2 linked regions of the Homo sapiens genome follow. Each later gene encodes a partner of the first gene's protein in a complex. Each region holds a gene or a part of one and is shown on either strand. Other genes may lie near its edges. A codon is read from its position in the direction of its gene.

Evidence for each region.
Region 2: the proteins of VCPIP1 (region 1) and VCP are in contact, whole or in part, in a cryo-EM structure (PDB 9DIL), measured with the Homo sapiens proteins. Residues at the interface, in NP_079330.2 of Homo sapiens: Trp609, Ser620, Asn621, Val622, Tyr623, Asp624, Gln645, His649, Leu652, Thr655, Ala656, Lys657; in NP_009057.1 of Homo sapiens: Asn589, Asp627, Asn750 (codon at 1,790), Arg753 (codon at 1,799), Lys754 (codon at 1,802), Met757 (codon at 1,811), Phe758 (codon at 1,814), Gln760 (codon at 1,820), Thr761 (codon at 1,823).

What each region holds. Positions count from the first base shown.
Region 1 is NC_000008.11:66,660,412-66,664,231, reverse strand, and holds part of VCPIP1 (deubiquitinating protein VCPIP1), read left to right. Parts: intron 1-3,820. UniProt on the Homo sapiens protein: Deubiquitinating enzyme involved in DNA repair and reassembly of the Golgi apparatus and the endoplasmic reticulum following mitosis. Necessary for VCP-mediated reassembly of Golgi stacks after mitosis.
Region 2 is NC_000009.12:35,055,413-35,059,232, reverse strand, and holds the end of VCP (transitional endoplasmic reticulum ATPase), read left to right. Parts: intron 1-13; coding exon 14-169; intron 170-1,702; coding exon 1,703-1,857; intron 1,858-2,010; coding exon 2,011-2,116; 3' UTR 2,117-3,169; downstream 3,170-3,820. UniProt on the Homo sapiens protein: Necessary for the fragmentation of Golgi stacks during mitosis and for their reassembly after mitosis. Involved in the formation of the transitional endoplasmic reticulum (tER).

The sequences.
Region 1 (3,820 bases):
CTGATGGTATATCTTAATTGTAAATATAATACACTGAGTTTTCCTGTTATCTTTGGGGGAAAAGAAATCTGTAGCCATTGTAAGTTTTTAATTATATATTTCAGGAGAGAATTATTTTTAGTATTTTGAACAGTTGATAGATGTTAATAGGATTATTGAGTAACTATTAGGAAAATAGAAAGTTAAGGTAGTCCCTCAATAATAGTCAACAGATTATTTAAATATATCTTATTCTTGCAATTGCTTTTTAAAAAACAGACTTGTATTTATTTAAAGCGTTTTAAATTTTTTGGTAGGCTCTATTGATCCTGCCTACCTTGCCCCTTTTTCATTTATTTTTAATTTTTATTTTCCTGTATGTCATGTGATTTCAGCACTTCCTGTTTGATGAATTGCAGTTTCTGGTGTTTATATTCTCACTGCACTCCCACCTAGTAGTCTCTTACATTTCATTTTCTTCCTTTCCCAGTTCATCACATTTTTCTTTCTCATACACTAGGATTTGTATGTAAGTACACTAGGATTTGTATTTAAGTAATTTCACTACTCAAGTCTTTGCCATCAATTATAATGAACTGTTATAAGTTGTAGTTCATGAGAAACATAAACAGAGATGGATGGTAATGGTGTAAAGAAGTATTTGTTTTTAATCAGCATAAATTAAAGAAAAATATATTAACCAAATGTGTAATTTAAAGCTTTAGATGATTTGGGATACTGTTCAATGGTGTACTTTTTACAGTGTCTATATTTGCTTAGTCTTTGTTTTGAAATAACTTAGTATGCTTTACTAAGTCTTAAAGTATGAAGTAAAATTTAAATGTGTTAGTTACTGGAAGGGTTTTATTTTTGCTGAGATTAAAGCTTTCAACGAGAAAAGTCATCTGGGTTTTGATTCTGTTTTCTGATAGTACTATATGGCAGTGATTTGGGCCTTAATCTATCAAAATGAATACTACTCCTGGCTTATCTGGGGGAGTAGTAAATAGGGGATCTAAAAACCCTGCACAAATTTAGAACCCGGAATTGTTGATTTTAGTTTGCCAGACATAGTAATTGAATTGGGGAGTATGTCAGGAACTGTCCTACGCACTTTATATATTTCTTTTTTTTTTTTCTTTTTTTTTTGAGATGGAGTCTTGCTCTGTCTCCAGGCTGGAGTGCAGTGGCGCCATCTCGGCTCACTGCAAACTCCACCTCCCGGGTTCAAGCAATTCTCCTGCCTCAGCCTCCCAAGTAGCTGGGACTACAGGCCCACGCCTCCATGCCCAGCTAATTTTTGTATTTTTAGTAGAGACGGGGTTTCAACTTGTTGACCAGGATGGTCCTGATCTCCTGACCTTGTGATCAAGGTCACTTAAATACGAATGCTAGTGTACTTAAATACAAATCCTAGGTGGCCTGTGACTGTAATCCCAGATACTCTGGAGGCTGAGGCAGGAGAATCGCTTCAACCCCGGAGTTGGAGGTTGCGGTGAGCCTAGATCGCGCCACGGCACTCCAGCCTGGCGACAGAGCGAGACTCTGTCTCAAAAAATAAATAAATAAATGAATAAGTAAATAAATAAAAGACCTTCAATCTCCCAGGTCAAAAACAGGAAAGAGAAGATCTTCCTCAATAGAAGATGGACTCTTGAGAATGTGGCTCTTACCTTTATCCTTGTATGCACAGAACCTGATAATAGTGCTCAGCAGGTAGTATGCACTCTGAAATGTTTTTTAATTGAATTAAATAGATGACATTAACACAGCTAAAGAAAGGCTGTATCTGCAGAAATGGAATGGATGGTCAGTCAGCACTGAACATTGAAAAAAGTGAAAAGCAGAATTCGGCAATGTTCATATACTGCTGTACAAAGGAAAAAGGTACATCATCTGGGGTTCATGAAAATTCTGGTAACTAGAAAGGTAATCTCTGTCGAGGGGTAGGAATATTTGAACAATCCTGACTGTGGCCTGGCTGAAACATCTCTATCCCTTTGCCTGATTTCCATGTTCATCAGGCATCTATTCGTAACACTTATTTAGCTTCCTGATAACAAGTTTTGATGTACAGGTGACAGTGCAGATAAGGACGTGTTCACTTTGAAAGCTGTATTCTCCATTGTAGACTAATAAACGGACATGGGCAGGATTATGATCAGTAGTCTTAAAAATATGATCAGAGCCAGTCACGGTGGCTCATGCCTGTAATCCCAGCACTTTGGGAGGCTGAGGCGGGCAGATCACGAGGTCAGGAGTTCGAGACCATCCTGGCTAAGATGGTGAAACCCTGTTTCTACTAAAAATACAAAAAAAAAATAAGCCGGGTGTGGTGGCAGGAGCCTGTAGTCCCAGCTTGTCAGGAGGCTGAGGCAGGAGAATCTTGTGAACCGGGGAGGCAGAGGTTGCAGTGAGCCGAGATCGTGCCACTGCACTCCATCCTGGGCGACAGAACAAGACTGTATCTCAAAAAAAAAAAAAAAATCTGATCGGTATGATTATATATAGATTTTTGAGACAGAGTCTCACTCTGTCGCCCAGGCTGGAATGCAGTGGCGCGATCTCAGCTCATTGCAACCTCTGCTACCTGGGTTCAAATGATTCTCCTGCCTCAGCCTCCTGAGTAGCTGGGATTACAGGCATGTGCCACCACACCTGGCTAATTTTTTTGTATTTTTAGTAGAGACAGGGTTTCACCGTGTTAGCTGGGATGGTCTCAATCTTCTGATCTCATGAACCGCCCGCCTCGGCCTCCCAAAGTGCTGGGATTACAGGCGTGAGTCACTGTGCCTGGTTGATAATATATTTCATAATGAAAATTAATCAAATATAATTCTGGTGTATAAATACTTTCTGAGTTTGGTTGGAGGTTCTTGGACCTGAATATCTGAGAGAACCTAGAGTATGGACTGCAATGAGTTCACCAAGATAATGTCTTTCTATTCTGATCCCTTCCCTCTTCATATCCAGCATTTATGCCTGTATAAACCCACAAATTTCTTTAAAACTTCTTCCACTACCAACACAAAATTTGGGTGTAAAAGAGAGCATTGTGTTACTTTTGTAATGATATCACTTGAGATACTTTCTGCTTTAAATTGAAGTATTAAGTGCATAGCCTGTATTATATTAGTCCCTTATAAATCTTAGTTTTCTTCCTCTAGTTCGCTTATGACTGTATTTGAATTATGTAGAAGATTTTTTTTTTGAGACAGAGTCTCGCAGTGTCGCCAGGCTGGAGTGCAGTGGTGCGATCTCGGCTCACTGCAACCTCTGCCTCCTGGGTTCAAGCAATTGTCGTGCCTCAGCCTCCCAAGTAGCTGGGATTACAAGCACGTGCCACCACACCCAGCTAATTTTTGTATTTTAATAGAGAGAGAGTTTCTCCATGTTGGTCAGGCTGGTCTTGAACTCCCGACCTCAGGGGATCCGCCCTCCTCGGCCTCCCAAAGTGCTGGGATTACAGGCATGAGCCACTGCGCCTGGCCGAAGATATTCTTAATTTAAAAAAAAAGATGTTCCTACAAAATTCAGTTTGGGGATAAATACTAACCATATGTAAAGAGTACTGGGGAACTGTTGATGTTTAGATTGGAGAGGACTAGAAAATGACAGAGCTTGTTTAGAAGATTACAGATTTCAAAGTGCAGAAATTACTTTGTGAATTACCAAATGTGAGCTAAGCTGTGTTATGTTAGTTTAGAATATAGCTCATCAGACTTTATGCTGTTCAAATAGCTGGTTCTTTCTCGTTTAAGTTTAGGCTTAAATACCACCACCCTGTAAGGGTTTGAGAAAACTTTGCTGACCATTCTAAGTAGGTTCCCTCTATCAGTGT
Region 2 (3,820 bases), on another chromosome or scaffold:
CTGCTGCTTTTAGGATGTGGACTTGGAGTTCCTGGCTAAAATGACTAATGGCTTCTCTGGAGCTGACCTGACAGAGATTTGCCAGCGTGCTTGCAAGCTGGCCATCCGTGAATCCATCGAGAGTGAGATTAGGCGAGAACGAGAGAGGCAGACAAACCCATCAGCCATGGTGAGTCTGCATCCTTTCCCCAGATGTGCCAATCATGGAGAGCCAGGCAGCAGCCACCACCATGCCCTGGAGTTGAGAGTAGAAGCTGTTGGAAAGATCATCTAACTGAGAAGAATTTTAATAGGGCATCAAAGATAAAGAATGCTGAGGTGAATCCATTCAATTTGGAATAAGGCCGAGAAGAGATGGTCAGGCTCCATTCTCAGTCTGAACCAAGCTCCATGAGGGAAATCAAAGTATGAGAGTGCAGCAAACACAGCAAGGTTTTTTTTGTTTTTTGTTTTTTGTTTTTTTTTTGAGACGAAGTCTCACTCTGTTGCCCAGACTGGAGTGCAGTGGCACGATCTTGGCTCACTGCAACTTCTGCCTCCCAGGTTCAAGCGATTCTCCTGCCTCAGCCTCCCGAGTAGCTGGGACTACAGGCACATGCCACCATGTCCGGCTAGTTTTTTGTATTTTTTTTTTAGTAGAAACGTGGTTTCACCACGTTAGCCAGGATGGTCTCGATCTCCTGACCTTGTGATGTGCCCACCTCGGCCTCCCAAAGTGCTGGGATTACAGGCGTGAACCACAGAGCAAGGTTTTGAGCTGAGATGAGACTCATATACTTATCCCTGATGGTTGGGGAAGGGATAGGGTCCACAGACCTCCCAAAATGAAAAGGCAAATTCATGTGTTTGTAAGTTCCATAAAGGTAAGATCTCTGTCATCTCACTTGTTTTCCACTATGTCTTGTGTTACCCTTAATTAATTCATTAAGTTCCAAACATGGGACTTAATGAGCAAATAAATGGCTTTCTTTCCCTTTTGAAGGGTCTGTGACATCCCTTCTCTCTCCCATAAAAGCTTAACAACTACTGATGAACTAATCCTAGGAGGTAGTCACATAAGTCACAGAAATTGGCCTCTCAATGGAAGAGATAGGTTTTGAGCTGGGCTGTGAAGAGAGTAGAATTTGAATAAAGGGAATAAGCAGCCCAAATAATGTGCTCTAGTAGTAGGATTGCAATCATTGGGAAACCCTGGGTAGATTTAAGAGTATATATGTCACTGGAAGTGAGACCGCTAGGTAGGATGTAATCCAAATGTGGTAAGCACTGAAAGCCATTGGCATTTCCTTTTAAAGTATTAAGGTTTATTAAGGTATGATATAAATACAATAAAATTCACTCTTTCTATATACCATTTCCATGCTTTATGACAAGTGTGTGTAAGTTCTATAACTACTACCACAGTTGAGACTTAAAATTTCTACTATCTCAAAAAGTTTCCTTAGCCACTTCAGTCAACATCTCCCCTCCTTAAGCCCCATCACTGATGTGATTTCTGTCCCTACAGTTTTCCCTTTTCCAGAGTGCATTGACAAGTTTTTAAGCAGAGCAGTGACTCAATTTTAGGAAGCATGGCCTAGCATCTTACCTCAGGTTGGATTGGAAGGGCAAGGAGACCAATAAACTGCAGTAATGGGAGGCCTGGGATGAAATCCAGGCTGGGCTTTAACTAGCCCTAGTGATCTGTGTTTACCAACTATAGGAGGTAGAAGAGGATGATCCAGTGCCTGAGATCCGTCGAGATCACTTTGAAGAAGCCATGCGCTTTGCGCGCCGTTCTGTCAGTGACAATGACATTCGGAAGTATGAGATGTTTGCCCAGACCCTTCAGCAGAGTCGGGGCTTTGGCAGCTTCAGGTAAGTTGGTTGGGAGCATTAGACAGTGCTTAAGTTACTTTGGGGACCTACACCAAAAGGGATGGGAGTCCTAAGGAAGCTAGAGGGGTAGTTGTGGAAATCTTACACAGGCCCTGTCCTAACCCTCTTTTTTGGCTTTGCTCTTGTACACAGATTCCCTTCAGGGAACCAGGGTGGAGCTGGCCCCAGTCAGGGCAGTGGAGGCGGCACAGGTGGCAGTGTATACACAGAAGACAATGATGATGACCTGTATGGCTAAGTGGTGGTGGCCAGCGTGCAGTGAGCTGGCCTGCCTGGACCTTGTTCCCTGGGGGTGGGGGCGCTTGCCCAGGAGAGGGACCAGGGGTGCGCCCACAGCCTGCTCCATTCTCCAGTCTGAACAGTTCAGCTACAGTCTGACTCTGGACAGGGGGTTTCTGTTGCAAAAATACAAAACAAAAGCGATAAAATAAAAGCGATTTTCATTTGGTAGGCGGAGAGTGAATTACCAACAGGGAATTGGGCCTTGGGCCTATGCCATTTCTGTTGTAGTTTGGGGCAGTGCAGGGGACCTGTGTGGGGTGTGAACCAAGGCACTACTGCCACCTGCCACAGTAAAGCATCTGCACTTGACTCAATGCTGCCCGAGCCCTCCCTTCCCCCTATCCAACCTGGGTAGGTGGGTAGGGGCCACAGTTGCTGGATGTTTATATAGAGAGTAGGTTGATTTATTTTACATGCTTTTGAGTTAATGTTGGAAAACTAATCACAAGCAGTTTCTAAACCAAAAAATGACATGTTGTAAAAGGACAATAAACGTTGGGTCAAAATGGAGCCTGAGTCCTGGGCCCTGTGCCTGCTTCTTTTCCTGGGAACAGCCTTGGGCTACCCACCACTCCCAAGGCATTCTTCCAAATGTGAAATCCTGGAAGTAAGATTGCACCTTCTTCCTCTCCTGATCAACATCGGTATGATGTCTCCTGTTGCCTCACCCTTTGTCTGCAGTATCACTGGATAGGACTGGTGGAAAGGGAGCAGCCTGACAGAGCTCCAAATGTGGAGAATATGGCATCCCTCCACCTATATTTGATGTGGACGGTAAGGCTAGGCCTGCAGGATCCCTTATCCTGACCAAAGACTGTGTTGGGGTGCCATTTGAAAATCGCAGGGTTGCAAAAGAATACAATCTTACTTGCAGGTGGATATTCTCTATACTCTCTTTTAATGCATCTAAAAATCCCAAACATCCCCTGGTTGGTGATCACTTACAGTTGTGTCCACCTTTATTTTATGTACTTTGATTAAAAAAAAAAAACTTTTTGTTAATATAAAATTTTAGTATTGAATTTTTTTTTTTTCCAAACAGAAAATAGACTATCCTCTTCAACAGTAATCACTTAGTGCTTCTAGGGTCAGTACAGTGATGCCTTACCCAGAGAGAGAGTAGTGCAGAGAAAATAAATTACTAAATTAAATATATGTTGATTGGCTTTGGGACATAATCTCAAAAGACAGTCCTGAACACCGTAATTTTGAATAAAATACTGTAATCTCCAAAGATCAAAATCCCTAAAGTCTAAAATTCTGAAAATCACAATCCCAAAAGGTCAAAATCCCAAAATACAATTCTGGAAGAAATACTAAACATTCTTCGAAAATTTACTTACATTTTTAAAAGCGTATTTATTTGAGAAACAACACAACAGAACGTTTCATAGGCCACTACACGATAAAATAGGGAATAGTAACATTTTTGCAAGATAAACACTCAGGTATACCAATGACAGTTGCACGGATATAACGGTGATGAGCAGATGAAACATTCATAAAGAAATAGGTCAAAAAGTGAAATGTATAAATGCTTTGTCACTATGCTTGGTAATTGTGGGCACCTAGCTTTATATAACTGGTCATCTGTAATACTGTGACAGAAAACCTAAGTCTTGATGAGATGGTTCAAAAACTGTTGCGTTACCACTGCATT